Linked DNA regions of Homo sapiens: all the other regions are linked to region 1. The links come from fine-mapping of genetic effects on gene expression. A gene starts in region 1. Each other region holds a variant in brackets. All regions are shown on one strand. Distances are from middle to middle. Region 1 holds the start of DHRS7B (dehydrogenase/reductase 7B). Region 2 overlaps DHRS7B (dehydrogenase/reductase 7B). Region 3 overlaps LGALS9B (galectin 9B). Region 4 has its middle 14 kb from the start of NATD1.

What was found. PIP is the estimated chance that this variant, and not a neighbour inherited with it, causes the effect.
Region 2: its variant is the best candidate, but not a certain one, in a credible set for the expression of DHRS7B in whole blood (INTERVAL, PIP 0.61).
Region 3: its variant is the best candidate, but not a certain one, in a credible set for the expression of DHRS7B in whole blood (INTERVAL, PIP 0.60).
Region 4: its variant is the best candidate, but not a certain one, in a credible set for the expression of DHRS7B in whole blood (INTERVAL, PIP 0.64).

What each region holds. Positions count from the first base shown.
Region 1 is chr17:21,123,125-21,131,080 of GRCh38, reverse strand. DHRS7B (dehydrogenase/reductase 7B) reads right to left here and starts at 4,117. Exons shown (of 7, transcript NM_015510.5): 1 at 4,090-4,117. The coding sequence starts at 4,109. RefSeq lists an enhancer at 3,796-4,455.
Region 2 is chr17:21,155,264-21,163,219 of GRCh38, reverse strand. The region is part of intron 1 of DHRS7B (dehydrogenase/reductase 7B); the gene reads right to left. Among named protein-coding and RNA genes, the nearest start is that of DHRS7B, 32 kb to the right of the region's middle. The variant C/T (reference allele first, on the strand shown) is at 3,886.
Region 3 is chr17:20,459,496-20,466,608 of GRCh38, reverse strand. LGALS9B (galectin 9B) reads left to right here. Exons shown (of 11, transcript NM_001367292.2): 2 at 6,166-6,257. Among named protein-coding and RNA genes, the nearest start is that of LGALS9B, 4.5 kb to the left of the region's middle. The variant T/A (reference allele first, on the strand shown) is at 2,640.
Region 4 is chr17:21,263,047-21,271,002 of GRCh38, reverse strand. No RefSeq gene overlaps it. Among named protein-coding and RNA genes, the nearest start is that of NATD1, 14 kb to the right of the region's middle. RefSeq lists enhancers at 2,415-2,464, 7,667-7,956. The variant T/C (reference allele first, on the strand shown) is at 3,828.

The sequences.
Region 1 (7,956 bases):
GCAAATTCAGTGGCCATCACAGACCTCTCCCTCCACTAAGCAGTTTAAATGGCCAAGCCTCATGTTACTGGGAACTTTAGAAGATAGGAGGGAGAGCTCAGGTAAAATCCTAAGGAATTTGTTGTATTTCCTATCTGGGTGGGTGGCAAGAAGCTTTCAAACTGAATTTACACACCATTCAATCCCAATTTTCACCCTCATGCTTATGGCCTTCCAGAATAGAGAGTTCATTTTTGCATTAAAATAACATTGGCTACCAAAGAAAGGTTTCTTATGTGTATAATGGGGTGGGAATGAATAATTCCTACACCATCCAACATTATGGATGTTGCTCTAGTCCAACATTTTACTGTACTGTAAGTAAATTTTTTTTTTAGTTGTCATGCAAACATATAGTAAAAATTTTAAAACTGAATTTTCACTGTTTCCAAAGGGAAAGAGATCTTCTCTCCTTCCTTTTCCTCACAGCATTTCTTTGAAAAACCCAGTATTTATAAATTATTCCTCTGTCCCTTTGATATGTATGCAAATCTTTTTAAAGGCTAAATAAACTACCCCTAGCTTAGCTTGTTTAAACCCAGTAAATACAGTAAAACCCAGGACTGTTTTTCTGAAGGGCCTGGAACCCCCCCTTTACAAACGTACGTACATACATACGTAAGTTTATTTATTTATTTATTTATTTATTTTTTGAGGTGGAGTCTCACTCTGTAGCCCAGGCTGGAGTACAGTGACACAATCTCGACTCATTGCAACCTCTGCTTCCCAGTTCAAGCGATTCTCCTGCCTCAGCCTCCTGAGTAGCTGGGATTACAGGCACACGCCACCACACATTTTTGTATTTTTAATAGAGACGGGGTTCGCCATGTTGGCCAGGCTGGTCTCGAACTCCTGACCTCAGGTGATCTGCCCTCCTCAGCCTCCCAAAGTACTGGGATTACAGGCGTGAGCCACCGTGCTCAGCCAAACCCCCTATTTTAAATGGAAATATCCAGGAAGACAATGCCCCAGCCCTATCCCTATCACTGTGGAAGTTTAGCCTAGGCACCTCAACTACTTGTTTTATCATAGAGCTGTTTCATGTTTTCCTTTGGAAAAAAGTAACTAGGTAGCACAGATGACCAACCCAATTACCAGGTGAATTTAGAATGAACTATGAAAACATGTACAGCAAATGGTGCTGTCAAGTCTTCTTATAAGAGGACAAATTACCATTAATCTTGAGACTACATAATGGGTTGTATCTGCTCAGCTGCATACAAATAAGTGGTGGGATTTCTTTTCTGAAAGAAACTGCATTAGCATATTATCCATAATACATTCCAGTCTGGTTTAATGCTTATTTTTTTCTTTTTCTTTTTTTTTTTTTTTTTTTTGAGTCAGGGTCTTACTCTGCTGCCCAGGCTGGAGTGCCGTAGTATTATCACAGTTTACTGTAGCCGCAAACTCCTGGGCTCAAGTGATCCTCCTGACTCAGCCTTCTGAGTAACTGGGACAACAGGTACACACCAGCACGCCTAGATAATTTTTTATTTTTTGTAGAAATGGGGTCTCCCTATGTTGCCCAGGCTAGTCTCAAACTCCTGGCCTCACATGATCCTCCCACCTCAGCCTCCCAAAGCGCTCGGATTATAGGTGTGAGCCACCACCTACAGCCTCACAGGGGTCTTTAAGTAACAAGATACAAGCTCCTCCTAGTCTCAAGACCTCACACATGCCCTTCCCTCCTCCTGTTAGCTCTTTGTCCAATTTAACTCCAACTCAGTCCTTTAAGTCTCAGCTAAATATTATTTTCTTGGGAAAGCCTTCCCTGTCTCTCCTCATTTCCCCCTCCGCATGCCGGTGACTCCATTATGTATCCTCACAGCACCCTCTACTGTCCTCCACAGCATGCATCACAATCGTAATTAATATTTAGTTTTATTTATATATTTACTATCTCCCTTGCTAGATTTATAAGCAATTTAAAGACAGGGGCTTTATCTGTTTTGATCATCATTGTATCCACAACACCCAGCACAATGCTGGTACACTGTAAACGTTCAATAAGTATCTGAAGGAATGAATGAAATTTGTAGCTAAGCGCTAGGTTCTGGAGTGACATGGCATTGGATCGGCCTTTACTAGCTCTATGCCTTTGTTGTTGTTTGTTGTTGTTGTTGTTGTTGTTTGAGACAGGGTGTCACTTTTTTTTTTTTTTTTTTTTTAAGACGGAGTCTCCTCGCTCTTGTCGCCCAGGCTGGAATGCAGTGGCGGCATCTCGGCTCACTGCAACCTCTGCCTCCCAGGTTCAAGCGATTCTCCTGCCAAAGCCTCCCGAGTAGCTGGGATTACAGGCGCCCACCACCACGCCCGGCTAATTTTTGTTTGTTTGTTTGTTTTGAGACAGAGTCTCACTATGTCGCCCAGGCTGGAGTGCAGCGGCGGGATCTCGGCTCACTGCAAGCTCCGCCATCCGGAGCACGCCATTCTCCTGCCTCAGCCTCCCTAGTAGCTGGGACTACAGACGCCCGCCACCAAGCCCAGCCAATTTTTTTGAATTTTTTTAGTAGAGACGGGGTTTCACCGTGTTAGCCAGGATGGTCTCGAGGTCCTGACCTCGTGATCCGCCCGCCTTGGCCTCCCAAAGTGCTGGAAATACAGGCGTGAGCCACCGCGCCCAGCCAATTTTTGTATTTTTTAGTAGAGACGGGGTTTCACCACGTTGGCCAGGCTGGTCTCGAACTCCTGACCTCAGGTGATCCGCCCGCCTCAGCCTCCTAAAGTGCTGGGATTACATGTGTGAGCCACTGCGCCCAGCCAAGACAGGGTCTCACTTTGTCACCCAGACTTGAATGCAATGGCGTGATCTCGGCTCACTGCAGCCTGTCTCCCAGGTTCAAGCAATCCACTTGCCTCAGCCCCAACAAATAGCTGGGACTACAGGCGTGTGCTACCTTGCCTGGCTAATAGCTCTATGCCTTTGGATAAACTTCTTAACATCTCTAAGCCCATTTCTCCCTCCATAAATAAAAATTATAGTTCCTATGATTAGGGTTATTACAGGATTGAATAATTCAGTAAAGGGATTAGTACAGTGCCTGTAACATAGCAAACACTCAAAAAATATCAACTATTATTAAGGAATGGAGAAAAGGGGACATGTACATGGTAGGGAAGGCATATTCCACACCCTTGGCAAAGGCACAAACATAGCTTCCATTATGCAAACACACCGTTGCAATCGGCAACAGTGTAAGCAAGAATTCTGCTTACTAAATGTATGAGTGTGTGAAACCCAAACGTTACTTCAAAAGTAACTTCACGATTCTCCAATCACTACATGGAAGGTTTGGAAACTGAAAAAAAGAGCATTATGTGGCTACCATTTGTTGAATACCTACTATGTGCCAGACACCAGCTGAGCACCTTGCACGCGCAGTCTCATTTACGCTTCACAACAACCTTATGAGTGGGCTTGTTACTCCCAAAGTTACAGCTGAAGAAACACTCAGAGTTTAAAACATTTGCCCAAAGCCGCACAGCCAGGAAGCCGCAGAGTAAGTATTGGAAGAGCAAGATATCTCAACCAGCCATTCCCGTGGACGCTCGAGTCAGCACCCTCCTCCTGCCTTCTGAAAAACCGGACTTCCTTTGCTAGTCCTAACTCGCCGTCACTGGCTAAGGTGCCACTGGCCCCCAGCGCTCAACCCTCGGTCCTGCCACTCGCAGACGCTGCGGAGCCTCCCCTACGTCGCGCAGAAATGTGGGAATAAACAGGTTGAAGCCAGGAGCCCTGTGGGCGCGAGGCCTTTCACACACAGCGCCCGGCGCGACACCCATTCCCAGCAGCGGAAACTGGACTCAAGACACCTCGGCGACAGGCGGGTTTCCCCGCCACGCACTCGCCGGAGCCAGGGCTCTGGTCCCAGCGCCTGGGCTGAGTCTTCCTTCAGAGTTCGGCGTCGCGGGGATCCGGAAGCCGCCCAGGGCCCGCGGCCTTAGCTCGACCACTACACCGCTTCCCCTCACCCAAGCCGGGGCGTCGCCTCAGCTCAAGGCCAGACCCTATCGCCTCATCTCGGAGGTTCCTTCTTCCCCAGCCCCTACCTGGTAGCCGGAGAGACCATAGTCAATCAACTTCATCCTCCCGCCTCGGAAGTGACGTGTACGCAGCCGGCGAGGCTCCGTCCAATCCCAGCATTGAGGCTGCGCATGCGCGTTGGGTGGGCGTCCCTCAAGGTGTACACAGGACCCGATGGACCCGAGATCTGATAGGGTCCACCCGCATAACTACAGTGCCTTCATCTTCCGGAGGGAAATTCCGAAGGTCGTGGTTGGTGTTCCGTGGACTTCCGGCGAAGAACACAGTTGGAGAATTCACGATACAGTTATCAAGATGATTATAATGCCACAGTAATCAGAACAGTGTGATAACTGGCACAAAGGTAAAAACAATGAATGAAAAAGAGAGAGACCAGAAACAGACCTGCAGCTATGTAGTCACTTTTTCCTCCTACAAGTAGCCACTGTAATGCAATAAGAAGAGTTTTTTCAATATATAGTGCTAGGTCAATTGAAGGTCGATTGGGGGGAAATGAACCTTGACTCCTATCTCAAGTAAAATAATTCTAGACGGATGGTAGACCTGAATGTGAACAATACAACTCTAGACAATAAAATCGCAGAATATTATGACCATAAGAGAGGAAAATAACGTGTTAGCAGAACACAAAAAGTGCCAGTCCTAAAGGAAAAAGCTGATAAATTGGGTGTCTGTAACTATAAGACACCGAAAAGACCCCATTGAGAAAAGGGAAAGACAATAGAACAGACAAGATATTTGTAATACATATATCTGAAAATGAATTTTATTCAGAATATGTACGTACTTCTTGCAAGTAAATTTTTTAAAGGACCCGAAGTGATTTAAAAAAAAAAAAAAAGCATGAAAAGAGGATATTGAGAGAGTAAAGGGCAGAGGAAGGAAGGGGCAGGGCAGAGGAAGGAAGGGGCGGGGGGACTCTTATCGTTCAAAATCATAAGATGGCAAATGTGTGTAAGGTGGAAAATCTCCCTTTCTGTTCTCCAGGACCCACTTCACCTCCCCCTAGGTAACGATGCTATTAGCTATGTGTGTCCTTCCAGAGCCAGTTTATTCATAACCAAGCAATTATGTATGTATTCAGCACCCCCTTGTTACACAAACAATAGCATTCTGAAACGTCCTTCTGTTTCTTGCTTTTATTAACTTTAGCGAATTAATATATCCTGGAAATTCTTACAGATATTCACAAAATCTGAAAATGGGAAATTTTATTTTTAACTAAATATTTATTTTTGACGTTTTCACAAAAGTTTTTATACCTTTCTGGCCCCTCTCCATTGTTCTGGAAACTCTAGATTCCTGCTTGCCAATTCACAAAGTTTGAATATCCTTGTAGCAAACCCAATATGAACCGTAAGGCAGAAAAATAGGGTCTGGAGACAGGGAACCTAAGGCCAATTCACGCTGACTTCCTAGAACTAAATCAAAAGGAAAACCCGAACTTTCCATGCCCAGGTAACAAAAGGAACAGAAGCTAGTCCCTTTGCAACCTGCCCCGCTTTTCTGCCTGGCAGATGAAAAATTGAAGGTACCTCTGATTGGTCCCCTCTTGCAACCAATCAGGCTGATCACAGGCCACTACTTCTTTTACATAGAGTGTACACCAAGTAACCAACGGGAACCCTCTAGAGGGTATTTAAACTCCAGAAAATTCTGTAACCGGGCTCTTGAGCCACCTGCTAGGCAGGCTCCCAACCTGTGGAGTGTGCTTTTGTTTTCAATAAATCTCTGCTTTTGTTGCATCATTCTTTCCTTGCTTTGTTTGTGCGTTTTGTCCAATTGTTTGTTCAAAACGCCAAGAACCTGGACACTCTCCACTGGTAACACCTGAGTCTTTATTGCATGACTAAGTCAGTTTCCTGGGGTTCATTTCCCAGGCCTGCTACCCTCTTAGCCTACCCACTCTTCAATCCTGCATGGAATTTGTTTTAGAAGCAACTCAATATATTTCAAAGTTTTGGTAACCAATTTGAATTGCATCTGCCAAATGCAAGTGTAAAAACTCTAACTTCGCAGCCAGGATATTATACAAAAAGGATTCCAGTGGGCCGGGTGCAGTGGCTCACACCTGTAATCCAGCATTTTGGAAGGCTGAGGCAGGCGGATCACCTGAGGTCGGGAGTTTGAGATCAGCCTGGCCAACATGGGGAAACCCCATCTACTAAAAATACAAAAAAATCAGCCAGGCATGGTGTCGTTTACCTGTAGTCCCAGCTACTCAGGAGGCTGAGGAAGGAGAATCACTTGAAACCAGGAGGTGGAGGTTGCAGTGAGCAGAGATCATGCCACTGCACTCCAGCCTGGGCAACACAGCGAGACTCCATCTCAAACAAACAAACAAAACAAATAGATTCCAGTGGTTAGCACAGTTCCATGGCCTTCTATGAAAACAAGATGGAAGATTTTTGTTTCCAGGAAGATGAACTAGACACAATTTTCCCTATTCCTTTTACTAAGTACAACTAAAAATTGTGGGCATTATATATAAAACAATCTAAGACTCCAAAAGTTGGAGAGAAGGCAAACCAGCTAGCCACCCTGGGACGCAAGGAACAACATGGTGGGTGTTGCCTTATATATCCCAGACTGGGTGCTAGGAAGCAAGCAACCTGGAAATGCCGACAGGCAAAGACAATGCCCTAAGAAAAGCCTTCTCTCTCTAGCCACAGGACCAGGAAATGGGCAGCCTCAGAGGACAGAAAACGTTTACACAATAATGGCTCTAATCCAGCCCAAACCACAGAAAAAGCCCCATCCCCATGCTTGCCTCTTGGAAAGCCTAGACTGCCACGCATGCTAGGCTGTAAAGAGGCACCACTGTCCCCTCTCCCTGGCATGGTGTCAGAGAAGGCCAAGTGGAGGGCTGGATTTTCTTTTTATTTTTATTTTTTATTTTTTCTTTTTTTTTTGAGACGGAGTCTGGTTCTCTCACCCAAGCTGGAGTGCAGTGGCACAATCTCGGCTCACTGCAACCTCTGCCTCCTGGGTTCAAGCAATTCTCCTGCCTCAGCCTCCTGAGTAGCTGGGATTACAGGCTCACGCCACCACGCCTGGCTAATTTTTGTATTTTTAGTAGAGACGGGGTTTCACCATATTGGCCAGGATGGTCTTGATCTCTTGAGCCTGTGATCCACCCACCTCGGCCTCCTGAAGTGCTGGGATTATAGGCGTGAGCCACCGCGCCCGGCCGAGGGCTGGATTTTCATTCCCACTGAGAGGTGAGGAGACTCTCCCCCAGCATGGTATCAGTGGAAACCATATGGAGAACCTGGACTTCTACCCCACTTAATTGTAAGAAAGCACTCATCCTCTTCCCTGGGGTGATGTCAGAGAGAGTGTTCCATCAAAGCCACCCCCAAAGCCACCCCCAAATGCCCAAGGAGCTGAGAAAACGTAGGAAGCAGACAAATCCAGTTTGTCCATATAGGATAATTATTAGAGGGAGCTTACAGACAGAAGCATGGTCTTGGGTGTCCACAAGGCAGGTGGATCTCCACACAGTAGCCCCGTAGAACCAGGGCTTATATCTTGGGGAAAAAATATACTTACTCTTGGAGGAATGTGTAGATGGTTGAGAGAATGCTGTGGGTGTCACAACCTATGATTTCTGCAACAGCATCAAGGGTTGTTTCTGTAAAAAGGCAAAAGTTACAGTGAATAGGTGATCCGGTATAAAGAGTAATACATCAACTAGACATTTTGGAGGCATTCCTGGAATTGGAGTTAGCGGATTCGCATTGAAAATAGTCACTCTTGTCCCCATAGGGAGCCAAGTGGAGAGTCAGGACTTTCAACGTCACTCAGTTGCAACAAAGCCACCTCCCACCCCACATATCAGTGGAGGTCCCCTCCCCATCCCAGCAAGGGTG
Region 2 (7,956 bases), 32 kb before region 1:
TTTTGGTTTTTTTTGGTTTTTTTTTTGAGACAGTCTTGCTCTGTCACCCAGGCTGTAGTGCAGTGGCGCGATCTCGGTTCACTGCAACCTCTGCCTCCCGGGTTCAAGCGATTCTCCTGCCTCAGCCTTCTGAGTAGCTGGGATTACAAGTGCCCGCCACCACAACCAGCTAATTTTTGTGTTTTTAGTAGAGACGGGGTTTCTCCATGCTGGCCAGGCTGGTCTCGAAGTCCTCACCTCAGATGATCCACCCACCTCAGCCTCCCAAAGTGCTGAGATTACAGGCGTGAGCCACTGTGCCCGGCCTAAACCTGTATTTTAAATGGTACCAAGCATGTTCAAGAAATATTAAATAATAATTTTAAGAGCCTTCATTATAGAAAACACTCTCAATGCTAAATACTTTTTGATAAGTAGAAAGCAGAAGAAAAATTGGGTCTCTAGAAGTTCGTTCTTGCCTGCTGTCCTCTTTGATAACTCCTATCCAATCTTCAAGTCCTGCTTGGGCACCATCTCCCTGAAACCTTTCAAGCCACCCAGCAACCCTGCCCTCCATATCTGGACAGGGTTAATCACTTCCTTTTCAGTGTAGCCTCCATAGCATCTCACAAAACATCACAATGATTTCCCTTCACTGCCACGTGCCTCCCAAGACAGCAGTTCTCTGAGGGTCTGGCCTTTTATTCTGACTCCCACACCATCTATGTGGTGAGAACTTCATAAATGTTTGTTGAATAAGATTGTATCATGGAAATAATCTAATCCAATACCATCAGATTACAGAAAAAAACAGAGCCCAGATGTGTTGTTTTATTTGCCTACACTCAGTATTAAACAGAATCCTGAAGAACAAATGTTCTCACAGTCCATTTTAACTATTTGCCAGTTGCCATAAGAAAAGCAAACATTCCTGCAGCTTTATCTCAGCAAAATATCACTAAAACGAATTACGGCAAACAAATCACATCCCAGAGCAAAAGTATGTCATTCGCTAGGGATTAAACATTAAATGTTGCTTAATTTCATGTAGTCTCATGGTTGAAATCATAATACTTTGAATTCTAACAAATTCCTGTCTTGGTTTCCTCACAAAGTTAGATAAATCATCATGTCTCTGTTGGCTCCCTTTCTCTCAGACAAATGTGCCTTACTGTAATTTATCTAGGATGATGGCTCACCCTGAATTCCAAGTTATTTTTAGAGCTGTGTGAAAAACATTTTTGTGAAATTTAACTAGAAAATGCTCTTTATTCTAAGGGAGGTTTTGAAAGTTTATATAACAACTCTCCTGAAAACGTTTAGTACACTGACTTTTAATGCCAGCAAACACAGAGGAGGAAGGGCACATGTGGGAAGAACTGACTGGGAAGCAAAGTGTCATGAGCTGAGAAGGCTGTGCCACTCCCAACATCTATGATTTCATTTAAAAATAGCCTAGCAGGTGCCCTATCACTTTCTTTTACCAAGCGTCCTAGCAAATATTTCCTGAGGACACGGCTGTGTCTCTTTCGGACAGTCATACAGTAAGTAATCAATCTATTTCACCCACTGTTAGATTTCCCACTTTTCTTCACAGATACATGTCTTCTCTTCTTATTTCTCTCACAAGGCCCTCTTCCTGGGGATTCAAGATAATGTCTGGAGTCATTTCCTTTTAGCCTAAAGGACTTCCTTTAATACAGCATTTCTTGAAGGACAAATCTACAATCTACCAATTATCTCAGTCTTTGTTTATATGGGAATGTCTTTATCTTACCTTCAATTTTGAAGGATAGTTTTAGATACAGAATTTCATGTATATTCTTTGAACATACTGTTCTACTGCCTCATAGCTGCCATTTTTTTATTAATAAAATTTCTAAGACAAACTTTAGGTACACAGGAAAACTGAGCGGAAAGTAGAGTTCCCATACACCCCTGTGTCCACACAAGTACAGCCTCCCCCATTATCCACATCCCTCACCGGTGTTACACTGTTAAAACCCATGCGCCTATGCTGTCACATCATTGTTACCCAGAGGGCAAAGTTTACATTAGTGCCCACTCTCAGTGCTATGCATTCTCTTGGTTTGGACAAATGTATACTGACATATATCTATCATTGTAGTTTCATACAGAATAGTTTCACTGCCCTAAAAATCCTCTGTGCTCCACCTATTCATCTCTCCCTCCTCCCCAACCCATGAACCTTTAACTATCTCCACAGTTTTGCCTTTTCCAGAATGTCATATACTTGGAAACATATGGTACATAGCCTTTCCGGATTGACTACTTTCACTTAGTAATATACATTTCAGTTTCCTCCATGTCTTTTCATAGCTTCATAGCTCATTTTTTTTTAGTACTGAATAATATTCAGTTGTCTGGATGTACCAGAGTTTATACATTCAAAGACATCTTGGTGGCTTCGAAGTTTCGGCAATTATGAATAAAGCTGCTATAAACATCTGTGTGCAGGTTTTTGAGTAGATATAGGTTTTCAGTTTATCTGGGTAAATATCAAGGAGTGTGATTACTGTGGTGTATGTTAAGAGTACATTTCATTTTGTAAGAAACTACCAACTGTCTTCCAAAGTGGGTATAGCATTTTGCATTCCCACTAGGAATGAATAAGAGTTTCTATTGCTCCACTTCCTTGCTAGCATTTGGTGATGTCAATGTTCTGGATTTTGGCCATCCTATTTAGTGGTGGTATCTCACTGTCATTTTAATTTGCATTTCCCTTATGAAATATGATGCAGAGCATCTTTTCATATGCTTATTTGCCACTTGTATATTTTCTTCACTCAGGTCTCTTCAGATCTTTTGTCCATTTTTTTTTGTTGTGTTGTTCATTTTTAATTTTTTAAATTTTTTTATTTTTGAGACAGAGTCTAACTTTGTCACCCAGGCTAGAGTGCACTGGCATGATCTTGGATCACTGCAACCTCCGCCTCCTGGGTTCAAGCGATTCTCCTGCCTCAGCCTTCCGAGTAGCTGGGATTACAGGCCCACACCACCATGCCCGGCTAATTTTTGTATATTTTTTAGTAGAGACGGGGTTTCACCATGTTGGCCCAGCTGGTCTCGAACTCATGACATTGTGATCTACCCACCTCGGCCTCCCAAAATGCTGGGAATACAGGCGTGAGCCACCACGCCAGGCCTAATTTTTGTATTTTTAGTAGAGACAGGGTTTCACCATGTTGGCCAGGCTGGTCTTGAACTCCTGACCTCAAATGATCCACCACGTCAGCCTCCCAAAGTGCTGAGATTACAGGCATGAACTACCATGCCTGGCCCTATTTTTCATTGATGAGTTTTAACAGTTCTTTGTATAATTTAGACAATAGTCCTTTTTTTTTTTTTTTTTTTTTTGAGACAGGGTCTTGCTTTGTGACCCAGGCTGGAATGCAGTGGCTCACTGCCACCTCAACTTCCTGGTCTCAAGGGATTCTCCTGCCTCAGCTTCCCAAGTAGCTAGGACTATAGGCACACACCACTGTGACTAGCTAACTTTAAAAAAATTTTTGCAGAGACAGGGTCTTGCCATCTTGCCCAGGCTGGTCTCAAACTCCTGAGCTCAGTGATCCTCTCATCTTGGCCTCCCAAAGTGCTGGGATTATAGACATCAGCCACCATTCCAACTGATAACAGTCCTTTAAAATGTGTCTTTCGAAAATATTGGCCGGGTGCGGTGGCTCACGCCTGTAATCCCAACATTTTGGGAGGCCAAGGCAGCAGGATCATGAGGTCAGGAGCTTGAGACCATCCTGACCAACACAGTGAAACCCCGTCTCTACTAAAAATACAAAAAAAAAAAAAATTAGCCGGGCGTGGTGGTGCACTCCTGTAATCCCAGATACTCAGGAGGCTGAGGCAGGAGAATCACTTGAACCCGGGAGG[C/T]GGAGGTTGCAATGAGCCAAGATCACGCCACTGCACTCTAGCCTGGGCGACAGAGCAAGACTCCGTCTTTAAAAAAAAAAAAAAGAAAGAAAGAAAAAGAAAATATTTTCTACTAGTCTGTGGTTTGTCTTCTCATTCTCTTGACACAGTCTTTCTCAGACTAGAAGTTTTTAATTTTAATGAAGTCCAGTTTATCAATTATTTCTTTCATGGATCATGCCCAAAAGTCACCACCATACCCGAGGTCATCAAATTTTCTCTTATGTTATCTTCTAGCAGTTTCATGGTTTTGCATTTTACATTTAGGTCTATGATCCATTTTGAGTTAACTTTTGAGAAAGTTGTGAAGTCTGTGTTTAGATTTTTTTTTTTTTTTTGCATGCAGATAGTGTTTCAATCTGCTGAAAAGACTATCTTTTCTCCATTGTCAAACATCAGTTGGCTCTATTTATGTGAGTCTATTTCTGGGCTCTCTATTCTGTTCCATTGATCTACTTGTTGTTTCACCAATATCACTGTCCTGATTAATGTAGCTTTATACTAAGTCTTGGAGTCAGGTAGCGTCAGTCCTCTAACTTGTTTCTCCCACAATATTGAGTTGGTTATTCTTGGTCTTTTGCCTTTCCACATAAACTTTATAATCAGTTTGTCAATATCCATAAAATGACTTGCTGGGATTTGGATTGGGATTGCATTGACTCCATAGATAAGCTAGGAAGAAATTATATCTTGACATTATTGAGTTGTTCTATCTGTGAACATGGAATATCTATTTAGTTGATACATTTCATCACAGTTTTATAGTCTGCCTCATTAAAAAACCTGTTCATACTTAATGTCTTTTTAATTTCAAATTCTACTTGTTCACGGCTGGTATACAGAAAAGTGATTCATGTTTATACATTAACCTTGTATCCTGCAACTTTGCTTAGTTTCTTATTCTTTCAGAGTTTTTACATAAATGATTGCCATCTGTGAACAAATACATTTTCATTTCTTCCTTCCCAATCTCTACAATTTTTATTTCATTTTCTTGTCTTACTGCACTATATAGGACTTCCAGTATGATGTTAAAAAACAGTAATGATTCAATATGAGATTTGGGTGGGAAAAATTTTTTTTAAAGCAGTGGTGAGAGGGAACATCCTTGCCTTGTTCTTGATCTTAGTGGGCAAGCTGAGTTCTTCACCATTAAGTATGATGGCTGTAGTTTTTTTTAAGTATTTATCAAGTTGAGGGAGTTCCCCTCTACTCCGATTTGCTGAGAGTTTTAATCATGAATCAGAGATAGATATTGTCAAATACTTTCTCTGCAGCTACTGATATGATCATGTGACTTTTTTTCCTCTTTAGTTTGTTGATGTGATGGATTATTATTATTTTTTTTTTTCAGACAGGGTCTCACTCTGTCAACCAAGCTGGGGTGCAGTGGTGCAATCTCAGCTCATTGCAGCCCTTACCTCCCAGGCTTAAGTAATTTTTCTGCCTCAGCCTCCTGAGTAGCTGGCACTACAGTAGTGTGCCACCACACCTGGGTCATTTTTGTAGAGATGGGGTTTCACCATTTTGCCTCCCAAAGTACTGGGACTACAGGAATGAGCCACCACCTCCAGCCAGATTACATTAGTTTTGTTTTGTTTTGAGACAGGGTCTCACTTTCTTGCCCACACTGGAGTGCAGTGGTATGATCACAACTCACTGCACCCTCAACTGCCCAGGCTCAAGCAGTTCTCCCACCTTAGCCTCCTAAGTAGCTGAGACCACAGGTGTACACTACCACACCTGGCTGATTTTATTATTTGTAGAGATGAGGTCTTGCTCTGTTGCCCAAGCTGGTCTTGAATTCCTGGCCTCACGCAATTCTCTCACCTCAGCCCTCCCAACGTGCTGGGATTACAAGCATGAGCACTGTGCCTAGCCTGATTTGAATATTGAACCAGACTTACACATCTTGGATAAATCCCACTTGGTCATGGTCTTGGTCATTTTCATACATTATTGCATTCAATTTGCTAATATTTTTTGAGGATATTTGCATCTATGCTCATGAGAGACATTGGTACATATTTTTATTTTCTTGTAATATCTTTGGTTTTGGTATTAGGGTAATGGAAGTCTCATAGGTTGAGTTAGAAAGTATTCTCTCTGCTTCTACCTCCTGGGAGAGATTGTAGAGAATTGGTATAATTCTTTCTTAATTATTTGGTAGAATTCATCAGTGAATCTATCTGGGCTTGGTGCTTTCTGTTGGGAAAGTTATTATTATTGATTCCATTTCTCTAATAGATACAGGCCCATTCAGAGTGTCTATTTCTTATTGCGTGAGTTTTGGCAGATTGTCTTTTCATGGAATTGGTCTATTTCATCTAGGTTATCAAGAAATGGGCACAGAGTTATTCATAGCATTCTTTTTTTTTTTTTTTGAGACAGAATTTTGTTTTTGTCACCCTAGCTGGTGCAATGGGATGATCTCAGTTCACTGCAACCTCCACCTCCCAGGTTCAAGCGATTCTCCTGCCTCAGCCCCCCGAATAGCTGGGATGACAGGTGCATGCCACCACGTCCAACTAATTTTTGTATTTTCAGTAGAGACAGGGTTTCACCATGTTGGCCAGGCTAGTCTCGAACTCCTGACCTCAGGTGATCCACCTGCCTTGGCCTCCTAAAGTGCTGGGATTACAGGCATGAGCCACCACGCCCGGCTTATTTTTTTTATTATAATTATTTTTTGAGATGGAGTCTCACTCTGTTACCCAGGATAGAGTGCAGTGGTGCAATATTGGCTCAATGCAACCTCTACCTCCCAGGTTCAAGCGATTCTCCTGCCTCAGCCTCCCAAGTAGCTGGGATTACAGGTGCACAACACCATGCCTGGCTAACTTTTGTATTTTTGTAGAGATGTGGTTTCACCATGTTGGCCAGGCTGGTCTCAATCTCCTGATCTTAGGTAATCCACCTGCCTCTGCCTCCCAAAGTGCTAGGATTACAGGCGTGAACCCCCACGCCCGGCTACATTTATTATTCTTTTGATGTCCATGGGCTCTGTGGTGATGTCCTTGCTTTCATTTCTGATATTAGTCATTTGTGCCTTAGTTTTTTAGCTAACTTTCTTAGCTGGACTAGAGGCTTATTGATTTTATTTATTATCTTTTCAAAGAACCAGCTTTTAGTTTTGTTGGTTTTCTGTACTGATTTCCTATTCTCAATTTCATTGGTTTCTGCTCTAATTTTTATTATTTTTCTTCTGCTTACTTTGGATTTAATTTTCTCTTCTTTTTCTAGTTGCCTAAAGTATAAACTTAGATTGTTGATTTTAGATCTTTCTTCTTTTCTAATACATACATTCAATGCTATAAATTTCCCTCTAAGCACTGCTTTTGCTGCATTCTACAAATTTGGTAAGGTTTTCATTTTCTTTTACTTCAAAATATTTTCAGTTTTCTCTTGAGATTTCTTCTTTAACCCATGTGTTATTCACAAGTATGTTGTTTAATCACTAACTATTTGGGGGATTTCCAGTTATCTTTCTGTTACTGATTTCTAGTTCAATTCCATCGTGGTCTGGAAGCAGACAATGTATTTCTGTTCCTTTATATTTATTAAGGTGTGTTTTGTGGCCTAGAATGTGGTCTAAGTGAATGTTTCATTCACTTGGGAAGAATGTATAATCTGCTGTTGTTGGACAAAGTAGTTTATACATGTTAACTATATCCAATTGACCGCTGTTGAGTTGAACTATGTTCTTACTAATTTTCTGCATGCCAAATCTGTCTTTCTGATAAAGGAGCATTGAAGTCTCCAAATACAATAGTGGATTCATCTCTTTCTCCCTGCAGTTCCATCAGTTTTTGCCTCACATATTTTGATGCTCTATTATGTGTATATACATTAAAGATTATTGTCTTATTGGAGGATTGATCTGCGGTCATAATGTAATGCTCTTTAACCCTGATAACTTTCCTTGCTCTGTAGTCTACTCTGTGTAGAAATATAGCTACTCCCACTTTCTTTAATTAGTGTTAGTATGGTGGATCTTTTTTCATCTCTTTATGTTTAATCTATATGTGTCTT
Region 3 (7,113 bases), 660 kb after region 1:
GAGTGGCAGCCCCAGGAGCCCAGGAGCCTTCAGGGGTGACTGTGTCCTGGGCTGGGTCCTGTCACAGGATCTCACCCTGCCTTGGCAAAGAGCTTCCCGAGGGGCTGGAGTGGGTGGGCTGATGGGCCCTTCCTGAGTGGGGAGACAGAATGGGGAGGGTGGGCAGAGGCAGGGTGCTGAGGGCAGGGAAGCTGCCAGGGGCCACCTCAGCAGAGGCCAGGGTCGGGCTTGGGTGCCCTCTGGTGATACTGAGTCCAGAATGAGGCTGCCTATGTTCTGGTCTGCAGAGCTCAGCTCTGCTTTCTAGACTCCAGAGAGGAAGAATGGAGAAAGGAGGCCTGTTTCCTCCTGGCTGTCACCAATGACCCCTCAGCCACCCTATGGAAGCCCCCAAGGTAGAACCTGCATAGAGGGAGTGGGGGAAGCTGGAACGGGCTGCCGGTGTTGGGCGAGCCTTAGAGTCAGCGTATGCCACCTTGAGCATGTCACCCCGTTTCTGGTTTTCTGCCAGAGAGGGGATCCCAGAGCTTCTTCCAGGTTCTGACATATTATTATTCTGGTAACTGGTTTTTACTTTCTAATCTTTGGATTCAGAAGGAAAATCCTCCTATGCACATCAGAGAGTTTGAGAGAGTTAAAGCGGGGCCTTGGAGCTCAGACAAGAAAGACGATCAGTGCAGCCCCCACAGGTGTCCAGAGCTCCCCTCTACCCTACGGGGGCTCCCCTGGGTTGGGACACTTGAGCCTCACTCGGTGACCCATCTGGCAGTCGGAGCCACGCTTTCTCCACATGCCGACAGTGGGGGAAGGTCACGCGGTTCACTGTCCTGCTGAGGAGGGCTGAGTGCCATGAGGGCCTGGCTTGGAAACCTCACTCCCACTTCTTGTCTGGCCTCATCTAGCCCAGCCTCTTTGGAGGGCTGGGGGGAAGCTGGAACCACCTGCTGTGTGGCCCAGGAAGCACTGCGAGAGCCAGGAATAAGGACGTTCCGAGCTTCCTCATGAGAGGAAGCCTGTGTGGTGGTTAGAAGCGTGGGTGCTGGGGTTCAAATCCCAGCTCTGTTGCCGACCAGCTGTGTAGCTTTGGGCAAGTGACTGAACTTTTCTGTGCCTCAGTTTCCTCATCTGTAAAAGTGGCCGGGGTTGCTGTGAGGATAAATGTTCCCGGTCACCCCCAGAGCCCTCATGGACACACATGGATCCAAATGCCACAGCAGCCTTAGCTGGCCAACTTAAAACAACACATTTGTGCTTACAGTGTTGGAGGTCAGAAGGCTAAAATCAAAGTGTCATGAAAGGTGGCCAGCAGGACCGTGGAGCCTCTGAGGCAACAGGGCACTTTGGCTAAGGGCCACGTACTGGCTCCAGCTGGCAGGCAGTCTCGGCCAGCCAGGCTGAGCTCCCTACTCCTGGGGCCAGGCCTTGGTGTCCTCTGGTGATGCTGAGTCCAGAATGAGGCTGCCCACATTCTGGTCCGCAGGGCTCAGCTCTGCTTTGACTTCCAGGTAGGAAGAAGAGGGAAAGTCCCCGGTCTCTGGGCACAACCAGGAACAGAGAGCAAGTTCTGACTCAGCAGAGGGATTGATTTGTTCCATGCAAAGAGCTGCACTGTCAAGGCCGACATGGGCCAGAGGCTCAGCACATGGCATCGCACCCCGTCCTCTCAGAACGCTGCCAGCCAGGGACTCAGCACATGGCATTCCACCCAGTCCTCTCCAGAATGCTGCCAGCCAGGGACTCAGCACACAGCATTGCACCCAGTCCTCTCCAGAACACTGTCGGGTGGTGTTACTGCCCTGCCATTCAGAGGAGGGAAGTGGGGCACAGGCAGGTCAAGTGACTTGGCCAGTGTCAGAATTGCTAGTGTACAGAGCTGGGAGGCGAGCCCAGGCCCATGGGACCACAAATCCAACACAAAAATCCATCCTCCTGCACCCTACGGAGCAAAAGTAGGTCCAGTTGTTTTCCTGGGTTTCCTGGACACACGGATCTAAATTCCACAGCAGCCTTGGCTGGCCAATCTTAAAACAACAAATTTGCTTTCTTAATGATTCTGGAGGGCAGATGTTAAAATCATCGTGTGAGCAAGGTTGTTTCCTTCCGGAGGCTCCAGGGGAGAATCTGTTTCTTTTGCTTTTCCAGCTTCTAGAGGCTGCCTGCCTGCCTTGGCTTATGACCCCTCCTGCCATCTTTAAAACCAGCAGCTTTGTCTGGGTGCAGTGGCTCATGCCTGTAATCCCAGCACTTTGGGAAGCTGAGGCAGGAGGATCTCTTTAGCCCAGGAGTTGGAGACCAGCCTGGGCAACAAACTGAGACTGTGTCTCTACAAAGAATAGACAAAAATTAGCCAGGCATGGTGGTGCATGCCTGTAGTCCCAGCTACCTGGGAGGCTGAGGTGGGAGGATCGCGTGAGCCTGGGGAAGTGGAGGCTGCAGTGAGCTGAGATCATGCCACTGCACTCCAGCCTGGGTGACAGAATGAGATCCTGTCTCAAAAAAAAAAAAAAAAAAAAAACACAACAAACAAACAAACAAAACCCCCAAAACCAGCTTCTTGCTTCTGTTGTCACATCTCTTACCTCTGACTTTGATCCTCCTGCTCCCTTTTATAGGACCTTTGTGATTACATTGGGACCACC[T/A]GTATAATCCAAGACAATCTCCCCATGCCAAAATTATGCATTTAATCACATCTGCAAAGTCCCTTCTACAACATATTCACAGTTTCCGGGGATTCGAATGTGGATGTTTCTGGGGGGTCGCCCACTGATAACCAGTATTATAAGTTTCTTGTAAATCCTTCCAGAGATATTTTATCTATAAATAAATAAATGCAAGTCCATAGCCTTCCCCTACCCACTTTTTATGCAAATGGCATTATTCCATATCGGTGCTCAGAGTTTTCCTCTTTTTCTTTTTTCTTTTCCGTCTTCTTTTTCTTTTCTTTTGAAAGCTACACAGAACTTATTCTATTATATGGAAATACCCTAATTTATTTCACCTTTTCCCTGTTGGAAGACTTTTAGGCTCCTTCCAATGCTTTGCTTTATAATCCTTTGTGTTATAATGCTGCAATGAATAACCTTGTTTGTTGGATGATATTCAATTTAAAATCTCATTTTTCAGGACAGGCATAGTGGTTCATGTCTGAAATCCCGGCCCTTTGGGAGGCCAAGACAGAAGGATCACTTGAGCCCAGGTGTTCAAGACCAGCCCTGGCAACATATCGAGACCTGGTCTTTTCAAAAAAATTTGAAAATTAGTGGGGTATGGCTTGGTGGCCTGCACTTATTTGGTCTCAGCTGCTCGGGAGGCTGAGGTGGGAGGATTACTTGAGCACAGGAGGTGGAGGCTGCAGTGATCCATGATCACACTCCTCACTGCACTCCAGCCTGGGCAACAGAGTGAGAACCCATCTCAAAATAAAATAAAATAAAATAAATAATAAAATAATCTTGTTTTTCAGAAATTGGGGGTGCCATTTAAGACATTTTGAAACCTCACAGAACTTTTTTGGGGAACTTGTTGCCTTGGAGATTAGCCTGCCCTGTCCTGCCCCCATGACCTGTACTTGGTCTTTCTCCCTCCTGGCTTCCTTAGTTAAGCCTTGTGTGGACTTGCGAGCCCATGTCCATCACTCTCTGCCTTCAATTCTAGGTGCTGTGGTGTGAATACGCTTGAGTGGAGGCCGCATGCTTCCCAGGAGGGTGTGTATTTTCAGCGTTGTCTCTCATGATAGAATGAAAGGCTCTGGAGGGAATCACAGGCTGCCACAAACAGGCAAGGGGAAAAATCTTCCACAGACGTGTTTCAGGGACAACAGGCTTCCCAATCCTAGCCCATGCTGGCCCATAACTGGATCAGGCTGACTCTCCTTCCCCCACACCGCTGGTGTAGACAGGGACAAGAAAGAGAAGTCAGAGACACAGAGAAGCTGTGATTTGCTTGAGGTCACCAAAGTATTTAATGGCAGAGTTCAGACCTGACCTGAGGGGCAAGAAAAGACAACCCCCTCAAATCCATGGGGAGCAGAGACTATCTGGATCAGATCTCAGATTGCCTGGGGCTTTCACGGTGCCAGGTGTGTACACTGAGCTAGGATGGGTTTCCCAGGGTGCTGTGTGGTCACATAACTCAACAATACAGACCAGAAAGCAGTGACCAGTAGGCTGAATTTGGCTAGTGGGTGTTTTCTGTTTGGCCTACACAGTGTTTACTTTAACTTGTTATTATAGGAAATTCAAACATGCAGAGAGAATTGTACCATCAACAACACACACCCATCACTCTGCTCCAACAATGATCAACTCAGGCCTATCTTGCTTCATCCTGTACCCTCCCTCGCTTGCTTCTCTTCCCACCTTCAGATATGCGGAAGCAAATCCAGAGATTTCATTCCATTGTAAATATTTCATTGTGTATCTCTACAATGTGGGAATTTGGGGAGTTTCATTTGAGACAGGGTCTCGCTTTGTTGCCCAGGCTGGAGTGCAGTGGTGCAATCGTGGCTCACTACAGCCTCGACCTCCCAGGCTCAAGTGATCCTCCCACCTCAGCCTCCCAAGTAACTGGGGTTAAAGGTGTGCACCACCACATCTGGCCAATTTTTTTATTTTTTGTAGAGATGGGGGTCCCACTATGTTGCCCAGGCTGGCCTAAAACTCCTGGGCTCAAGTGATTGTTTTACCTCAGCCTCCCAAAATGCTGGGATTATAGATGTGAGCCACTGTGCCCAGTCAGGAACTTTTACATAATCCTTTTTGACAAAAGATTTCCCCCAAGAAATTAGAAAGTTTTACAAAAAAAAAAAAAAAAAAAAATTCAGGTTTCTGTCTCATCTTAAAAATTTGGAAGTTCTGCCAATACTAAGCCCAGATGGTAATCATTGGTTAGTGCTGAGAAGATGTTGACTTTTTAGATGAGGCGTGTGACGTCTACTTTGCCACAGTCCCCACCACTCCCTACCTGGCCATCTGACTCATACACATCACCTGCCTGGCTTCTTTAGGCATTTAATTTGTGTAGGAAATTGACCTAAAGGAGATATTAGAGAAGACATTAAAAACTTGAAGAATGTGAAAATCAGCCATGAGATAGAACTGTGCTTTAATGCAGGTTATAGAACCACACCGGATATGAGGCATTTCGGAATAAACTTTGAAGATTGGAAGTACCAGTTTGTGAATTTTGCTCAGAGAGACCAAGGTGGGGGTGGGTGACAGTGGTGAAGCGTCTCCTCTGTGCCAGTCTCTTCTACCACAGGCTTTTTCTCACAAAATCATCAATCATATGCAGTAGGAGAAACACCTTCCTATTTTACAGATGAGGAAACTGAGGCAAAGAGAGGTGAAATAGGCTTCCCAAGGCCACTCAGGTCAGGAGCAGCAGAGTTAGGATTCAGACCTGGAGTCCGCCTGACTCCAAAACGATGCATGCCTCACCATGGCCCATAGCTCCTTTAAAGAGGCGCGGAAGAGAGAATTTGACAAAGTGCTTGCCCACGGGGCCTGGGATGGGTGGGGAAACTACGCTGGGGCTCGGGGCTGCGGAGGGCATCTGGGAAGAGGCTCTGCTGAAGGTGGTCAGGAGGGCAAAGGTCATGGTGGCCATTGTTATATGGTGGTGGTGGGGAGAGGTGCATGCCTTCTTCTTGACACTCTCTGGTGACCCTCTCGGTGGAACCTGCAGACCCTTGATGGGTCCCTTTGTTCCCTTGGGCCTCCTGAGTCCCCAGCCAGGGCGCTGGGCACTTTGCTGGGAGCTTGGCATGGGGTCCAGCAGCCCCATTGCTACCTAGTTCCTTACCAGCCCAGGGCGTCTGCCTGCTACTTCCCTGCCTGGAAGGAAGGCCTTCCGCCTGGAGCGTTCCTGGTGTGGCCTCCGCTGCCTCTCAGACTCTCACACAAGCTCAGCTCCCTGTCGCGTCCTCTCAGGGCCAGGATTCTCCTTATCACAAGCTTAGACTGTCTGAGTAACTAATTGGATTTGTGTCTGCCTCCACACAGGACCCTAAGACCCGTGGGGCTGAGACTCCTTCTGTCCTGGTCACAGCTGCACCCTAGCCCCTCGCATGGTGCGGTCACACCCAGGCCAGCCACTGACTAGCCCCGAAGGGGAGCAAACAGGAGGCCGGCCACCTGACTGAGGCCCCATGTCTTCTCCCTGCAGGCCGTCCCCTTTTCTGGGACTATCCAAGGGGGTCTCCAGGACGGATTTCAGATCACTGTCAATGGGGCCGTTCTCAGCTCCAGTGGAACCAGGTGTGTGTATATGGATGGAAACGTTTCACTCCAGCCTCGTCCCTTAGTAAAGCCACTGTGCCTGTGAGCCTCGGTTAGTTCAAACAACAACATCCAAGCTCACGTGCCTGGCGCAGGGGAGACCCAATGCATCCTTAACCCATGCCACAGGACAGCACTCCACAGGCACAACCTGCACCCAGGGATGCCATTAACCTGGACTCCAGGATGAATGGGGCCCTGGGAGCTGAAGGTCTAAGGAAGGAGTGGGATGGTCAGAGTTGGATGATTATGTTCTGGGCTGAACCTTGCACACTGTGACTGAGAGTTGCAAAAATCAAACTTCCTCCGTTTCCCATAACTGCTTTCATCCACTCTGAAGCTCTCCTTCTGCTGACATGAAAATACTGAAAATTGACATCCGAAGTAATTTGGTCTCTTTCGGTTTCAAGGCCTTTTCTGGAAACTACTAAGTCCATTCAAAATACTAACATTGTATCAGGGCTGTTTCCCACCCCTTCCTCCCTCCCAAGGTGGGCTGTCTGGGAACAGAGAGGAGCTCACGTGGCTTGTCAGTGGCTGGGAGGGCCCCCGACCCTCACGCAGGCCTGGCTGACCCCTGCCGAGGCATCCTGACTGGGTGGCACAGAGGTGTGCAGCTCTCTCCTGGTTTAGTGAGGGACCACGGGTGGCTGCCTGCTGAAGTCTGCGGGGCCCACAGAAGAGCCTCTGGACTCATGGCTCTCTCTCGGAAGCCTCTCTGCCTCAGTCCCAGTGGACCTCTCTTAAGACCCTCTGGGCCTCGTAGATGCCAGCTCAACCTCAGCTCCGCCACCTAGATTCTTGATGACCTCCTCCGCCATTGCTATCCTGCTGT
Region 4 (7,956 bases), 140 kb before region 1:
ACATATGGATGGGGAGTCTCTTTCCATGTGCTTATTTGGAAAGTGACTCAACCCTGGGAGTCATCAGAGGGATGCAGTTAAAACCACAATGAAACCACTACACACCTATTAGAAAGGTGAAAATTAAAATGACTGACACAGCCTGGGCAACATAGCAAGACCCAATCTCTACAAAAAATAAAAAATTCGCTGAGTGTAAAGGCCGGGCGCGGTGGCTAATGCCTGTAATCCCAGCACTTTGGGAGGCCGAGGCGGGCGGATCACCTGAGGTCAGGAGTTTGAGACTAGCCTGGCCAACATAGTGAAACCCCGTCTCTACTAAAAATACAAAAATTAGCAGGGCATGGCGGCAGGCGCCTGTAATCCCAGCTACTCGGAGGCTGAGGCAGAAGAATCGCTTGAACCCGGGAGGCGGAGGTTGCAGTGAGCCAAGATCGCGCCGTTGTACTCCAGCCTGGGCGACAGAGCAAGATTTCGTCTCAAAAAAAAAAAAATTAGCTGGGTGTGATGGCACCAACATGTGGTCCCAGCTGTTCGGGAGGCTGAGGCAGGAGGATCACTTGAGCCTGGGATTTCAAGGCTGCAGTGAGCCATAATCATGCCACTACCCTCCAGCCTGAGTGACAGAGCAAGACCCTCTCTCAAAAATAAATAAACAAAGAATTTAAAAAAATTTAAAAAAAGATAATTCCAGGCCGGGCACGGTGGCTCACGCCTGTAATCCCAGCACTTTGGGTGGATCACGAGATCAGGAGTTCGAGACCAGCCTGACCAACATGGTGAAACCCCGTCTCTACTAAAAACGCAAAAATTAGCCGGGCGTGGGGGTGCGCACCTGTAATCCCAGCTACTCAGCAGGCTGAGGCAGGAGAATCGCTTGAACCCAGGAGGCAGAGGTTGCAGTGAGCCGAGATCGCGCCATTGCACTCCAGCCTGGGTGACAGAGTGAGACTCTGTCTCAAAAAAAAAAAGATAATTGCAAGTATTGGTGAGGATGTGCAGAAACTGGAACTCTCATACATTGCTGTGGGAATGTGAAATGGTAGGATCACTTTGGAAAACAGTTTGGCAGTTTCTTATAAAGTTAAATACACCTACTTAGGACTCAGCTATTTCACTTCCAAGAGAAATAACTGTGTTTACACACACACACAAACCTGAACACAAAGGTTAGTAACAGCTTTTTCCATAATAGATAAAACCTAGCAAGAACTCAGCTGTCTATGAACTTGGAAAGGGATAAACAAAACATGGTATATATCCATCAATGCAATACTACTCGGTGACAGGAAAGGAATGCACTCCCAAAACATGCCACAGTGCAGATGGAGCTCAGATGCATTCCGCCGGAAAAAAAAAGCCAGATTCAAAAGGCTACCTACAATACGATTCCATTCACAGGACGTTCTGGAAAAAGCAAAACCACAGTGGCACAGAGCCATCAGTAGTGGCAAGGGACTGGGGTGGGGAGGGGATCAACTGCAAAGGGGCCCGAAGGAAACTTGGGAGTGAAGGAAATGTTGTGTATGATGATTGTAGTGGTGGTTACACAACCGTATACATGTGTCAAACATCATCAAACCATGCGCTTAAATGGCTGCATTTTATTGTATGTAATTATCCTTCATTAAAGCTGAGGGAGGAGCAGAGAAGTCCTTTCAATGAAGGGAAAAAACGGTGAGCATTTGGGGCCATTACTGCCATGTTACACACAAGAAAACTAAGGCTCAGGGGGTGACATGATGGGCCCAAGGTCAAGGAGAGAGAGAGTCTGTGGTGAGACCGGGATTTGCCTGCACTCTCGCCCTCAGGACTCTGCCCTGCATTTGCTGTATGATTACAGGCTGGTCTCAGTTTCCCATTCTTTAAAATGGGTAGGGGGATGAGCAAAACCCAGGCCCTCTCAGGCGATGGAGCAAGAAAACCCACACCCACATAATGGTGGCACTCAGAGGGACTGCGGGAGCCACTGGGTGGTGACTGACCCAACCTGGGCTGAGGATGGGGGAAAGCTCCTCAGAGTGACGATATTTAACCTGGGCTTCAGAAGATGAATAGGAGTTTGCCAATTGGAGTGTAGGAAAAAGGACATTCCAGACAAGGGGTGAGAATGTCCCATATATCTCCCCAGTCGCTCTGCCTCTTGCTGCCTGAAATTCCACTAGTTTATGCCATCCCTCAGGGCCAAAGCCTGGCTAGTGGCAAACCCTGACAGGAAGAGACACGCAGAAACCTATACAGAGGCTGGAGGGAAATAGCAGCAAGGCAGGGCGGGGGCCATGGCAATTGCTGGAGATTCTGAGATTCCAGGGACTGCAGGGACAGAGGAATATGTGACAGAATTGATCGTGTGCAGGGCAGCAGGGCAGGAGCCTTCTCATGGGTCACCTCATTAACTCCTCACCCCTGGAGCAGCACAGAGAGGTCAGATGAATCACCCAAGGTCACACAGCAAAACTGGGGGCCAGGCCGGGCCTGCTGATCCAAAGCCATTGCCCTTGATCTAGGGATCGGAGGAAGGTGGGGGCCTAGGGACCAGTTTCCCACCCCAACTCAATGTGTGACTCAGGCAAGTAACTTCTGCTCTCAGGCCCTCAGCTTCCACCTCTGTGAAATGGGCTGTAACAGAACCACCCTCACAGAGCTCTGGCAGGAAGAGAAAAGACAAAGGGACAGGAAGTGTCACCTCAGCCTCTCCTGCCCAAACAGCTGCTTGCATGCGGTGTGAGGAAAACAGAATTAGGGAGGGAAGTCCGCTCTGAGAAGAGACCCTCCCTCCACCTCTGGGCCTCAGTTTTCCCATCTTGCATTGAGGGAGGATTGGGCTGAATGACATGTCACAAACCAGGGGCCATTTCTAGCACCCATATGTTTTGTTTCACCCCTGTGGTCACTTTTTCCCCCCTTTCCTCTGAATTTTTATTATGTAAAATTTAAGCACACAGGAAGTCAAAAGCAGAATCCACAGCTGCCATCTGGTGCGACCTGCCCGGTGCTGACAGCTCTGCCCACGTGCACACTCCCCTCTCTACACATAGCTATGTGCTGTTTTCGGAATCTTTTTTTTTCTTTTTTTTTTTGAGATGGGGTCTCGCTCTGTCGCCCAGGCTGGAGTGCAGTGGCATGATCTCGGCTCACTGCAAGCGCCGCCTCCCAAGTTCACGCTATTCTCCTGCCTCAGTCTCCCCAGTAGCTGGGACTACAGGCGTCCGCCACCATGCCCAGCTAATTTTTTGTATTTTTAGTAGAGACGGGATTTCACTGTGTTAGCCAGGATGGTCTCAATCTCCTGACCTCGTGATCGGCCCGCCTCAGCCTCCCAAAGTGCTGGGATTACAGGTGTGAGGTACCACACCTGGCCCTGAATCATTTGAAAGTAAGTTACTGGCCAGAAGCAGTGGTTCACGTATGTAATCCCAATGCTTTAGGAGGCCAAGGCAGGAGGATCACTTGAGGCCAGAAGTTCGAAACCAGCCTGGGCAACATAGCAAGGCCTCCTCTGACTCCTCGATCTTTATCTAAAAATCATTTAAACAAAAAAAAGAAAGTAAGTTTTTGACTTTGTGACCTTTTGCCCCTAGTCCATCAGCATGCACTCCCTGAGAAGGCGGCCGTTCTACAAGACCATGATACGCTTACCTCACTGCAAAAAACACTGTAATTCCACAGATATCTAACACACAGTCCACATTCAAGTTACCCAGTTGTCCCCAAAATGTCTTTTATGGCTGGACTTTTTGTTTCAAACTAAGAGCTAGCCAAGATTCAGATGTTACATTTAGTTTTATCTCTTTCAGAGTGAGCAATTTGCTCTTTTTTTTTTTTTT[T/C]TCCCTTCAGAGAGAGTCTTGCTCTGTCGCCCAGACTGGAGCGCAGTGGAGCGATCTTGGCTCACTGCAACCTTCCCCTCCCGGGTTCAAGTGATTCTCCTGCCTCAGCCTCCCAAGTAGCAGGGACTACAGGCGCCTGCCACCATGCCCAACTAATTTTTGCATTTTTAGTAGAGATGAAGTTTCACCATATTGGCCAAGCCGGTCTCGAACTCCTGACCTTGTGATCCACCCGCCTCAGCCTCCCAAAGTGCTGGGATTACAGGCATAAGCCACCGCACCCAGCCTGAGCAATTTTCTTATTTTGAAAAAATTAACACCTCCAAACAAACAGCCAGAATCGTGGGTGAATCTGTACATGGCCTTTGCCTGGACCTAGCAAGGGTTTCCCATTTGCCAGAGTACCCCTCTCCCTCCCTGTCTCTCTGCCTCTCTCTCTCTCTCACTCTCCCGACCATCTAAGTTAGCAGCAGACACACCTACCTGTGTTTTAAAATCAGTTGGCATTTATTTATTTGTTTGTTTACTTATTATTTATTTATTTATTTTTTAAGACAGAGTCTTGCTCTGTCACCCAGGCTGGATTGGAGTGGTGCCATCTCTGCTTACTGCAACCTACGCCTCCCGGGTTTAAGTGATTCTTGTGCCTCAGCCCCCTGAATAGCTGGGACTACAGGCATATGCCATCATGCCCAGCTATTTTTTGTACTTTTAGAAGAGACGGGGTTTTGCCATGGTTTGGCCAGGTTGGTCTCAAACTCCTGGCCTCAAGTGATCCCCTCTGCCTCGGGTTCCCAAAGTGCTGGGATTACAGGTGTGAGCCACCTCGCCCAGCCTATTTATTTTTGAAACAGCGTCTCACTCTGTTGCCCAGGCTGGAGTGCAAAGACTTAATCTGCTCACTGCATCCTCAACCACCCAAACTCAAATGATCTTCTTACCTTGGCTTCCCATCCCAGCTAATTTTTGTATTTTTTGTAGAGGCGGGGTCTCACTATGTTGCCCAGGCTGGTCTCAAACTCCTGAGCTCAAGTTATCCGCCCACCTTGCCCCCCCAAAGTGCTGGGATTATAGGCATGAGCCATCACACTCAGCCAAAATTAACTGCCATTTAAACATCAAGAAGTCTCACATTTTTATTCGATTTCCAGCTCCTGTTGAAAAGCAGAAGACTTAGCCCAGGGCTCCCTTGTGGAACAACTTGCTGGAAGGAGCAGAAGCTGCCCCTGGGACAGACCAGGTGGTCCCACTTTGCCACACTCCACACTGCTCCCTCTGTCTGACACCCAGCCATTTCTTGCAATCCTGTAACCTGCCTGGGTCCTGCACCATGGAATTTTTTACCCTCAATTAATTCCACATAATCTTTTTTTTTTTTTTTTTTGAGATGGAGTTCTGTTCTTTTGGCCCAGGCTGGAGTGCAATGGCGCATCTCGGCTCACTGCATCCTCCACCTCCTGGGTTCAAGCGATTCTCCTGCCTCAGCCTCCCTAGCAGCTGGAATTACAGGTGCCCACCACCACGCCCGGCTAATTTTGTATTTTTTAGTAGAGACGCGGTTTCACCATGTTGGCCAGGCTGGTCTCGAACTCCTGACCTCAGGTGATCCGCCCACCTCGGCCTCCAAAGTGCTGGGATTACAGGCATGAGCCACCGTGCTCAGCCAATTCCAGAGAATCGTTAAGAGCCTCAGGTCTCTTCAGGGTGGGGGAGGCACCTTATCCTGGGGAGGCAACTGCCCATCAGTGCCAGTGGCTTCACAATGCATTGACTTTGTAGCCACTTGTTCTCTGCTCAGGAGATCAGACTCCAGACTTACCCCAACTGGGGTTCAGATCCAAATTCCAAGAGCTACCACCAAGGAGACTTTTGGAAAGTTCTCAGGCTCCTCAGAGCCCAGTCCCTTCATGAGTGCAACTCCTGCTTCCGAGGGTGGGTGTGAGGACTGGATGAAAGAATTCCCAGGAAGCACTTAGCATGGCACCTGGCCTAGGAGGAGCCCTCGGGTCTCATTTTCCTGAGAAGACAATCAGGTGGGTGGGCGGAAACAAGTACTAACACACTCATCCATCGCAATGCAGTGAAACACTGGAAATTATCAAAATCCCAACAAGAGGGAACTGGATAGATCATGAACATATCCCTGAGATGAAAGAATCAACAACTGAGACAAAGATGCTGTATTTTGAAATTACCCAGATAGCCATCGGTAAAGGACTGCTGTATCCAGGAGAATGGTTAGGATCTTTCAGCTGTGAGTGCCATGTCCCTCCACTCCGTGGACCGCTGTGCTATAGGGAGAGACAGACGGGTCTCCAGGAGAGACTGCTAAGTGATATGCCAACTTGTGGGTTAAAAGTGGGGGGGAAGAATATATATTTGTATTCACTTGTATTTATGTGTGGAAAACACTGGAAGAATTCATGAGAAACAAGTAAAAATGCTTCCCTGTGTGAAGTGGAGGAGCTCTGGGCAGAAGGCAGATGGCAGACAAAGGCAGTGGGTAGATTTTTTCTTGGTACCCACATACACTTCATTTTAGTTTTTGAAACATGAATATATTACCTAATCAAAATTATCTTTTAAAATATTCTTTTTGGGGCCGGGCGTGGTGGCTCACGCCTGTAATCCCAGCACTTTGGGAGGCCAAGGTGGGCAGATCACCTGAGGTCAGGAGTTCGAGACCAGCCTCAACATGGAGAAACCCCATCTCTACTAAAAATACAAAATTAGCTCGTCATGCTGGTGCATGCCTGTAATCCCATCTATTCAGGAGGCTGAGGTAGGAGAATTGCTTGAACCTGGGAGGCGGAGGTTGCGGTGAGCTGAGATTGCACCATTGCACTCCAGCCTGGGCAACAAGAGCGAAACTCCATCTCAAAATAAAAAAATAATAAATAAATAAATAAATAAATAAATAAATAAAATATTCTTTTTTTTTTTTTTTTTTTTTTTTTTTTTGTAGAGATGTTTCCCAGGCTGGTCTCAAACTCCTGGCCTCAAGCGATCCTCCTGCCACAGCAGGAAGTGCTGGGATTACAGGTGTGAGCCAGCCCACTCAGCCTAAAAATATTCTTATAGAATAATTCTGTGGTTTCCTATATATTAACAAAGGAAAATGATCACAGCATATTGTTAAATTGAAAATAAAAAACAAGCTATAAAACAGATAATCTGATTTGATTACAATTTTGTTGGAAAACTTTTTTTTTTTTTTTGAGATAGGGGCTCCCTCTGTTCCCCCAGGCTGGAGTACAGTGGTGCGATCTGGGCTCACTGCAACCCCTGCCTCCCGGGCTAAAGCGATCTTCCCACCTCAGCCTCCCAAGAAGCTGGTGCACACCACCATGCTTGGCTAGTTTTTGTATTTTTGGTAGAGATGAGATTTCACCATGATGCCCAGGCTAGTCTTGAACTCCTGGACTCAAGCAATCCACCTACCTCGGCCTCCCAAAGTGCTGGGATTTCAGGCATGAGCCACCGCACCCAGCCTTGTTGGAAAACGTTCTATTTGCACATAAAGAGCTCCATGTGTGCAGGGCTTTGTCTGTCTGTTCACGCTGTGTTCCCAGAATCCAGAACATACCTCAATTGCTCAATAAGCACCGTGTGAGTGAGCAAGTGCATGAGTCAATTAGTGAATGAATGAGTAAATGAGTACATGAATGGATGGTTACAGGATCAGGAAGATGTCTGAGGGCATGTGGCCAAACTGAACAGTGGTGGATTTATGACTTTTATCTTCTTGATATTTTTCTGTGTGTTCTGAAAATTTTAAACGAGCACTCCTCATGCTTCTAATCAGAAAAGAAAAACAGTAAAGGCAGGCCAGGCATGGTGGCTCATGCCTGTAATCCCAGCACTTTGGGAGGCCGAGGCAGGTGGATCACTTGAGGTCAGGAGTTTGAAACCATCCTGGCCAACATGGTGAAACTCCATCTCTACTAAAAATACAAACATTAGCCAGGTGTGGTGGCACGTGCCTGTGATCACAGCTACTCAGGAGGCTGAGGCAGGAGAATCGCTTGAACCTGGGAGGCGGAGGTTGCAGTGAGCCGAGACAGTGCCACTGTACTCCAACCTGGGCGACAAGAGCAAGACTCTGTCTCAAAAAAAAAAAAAAAGAAAG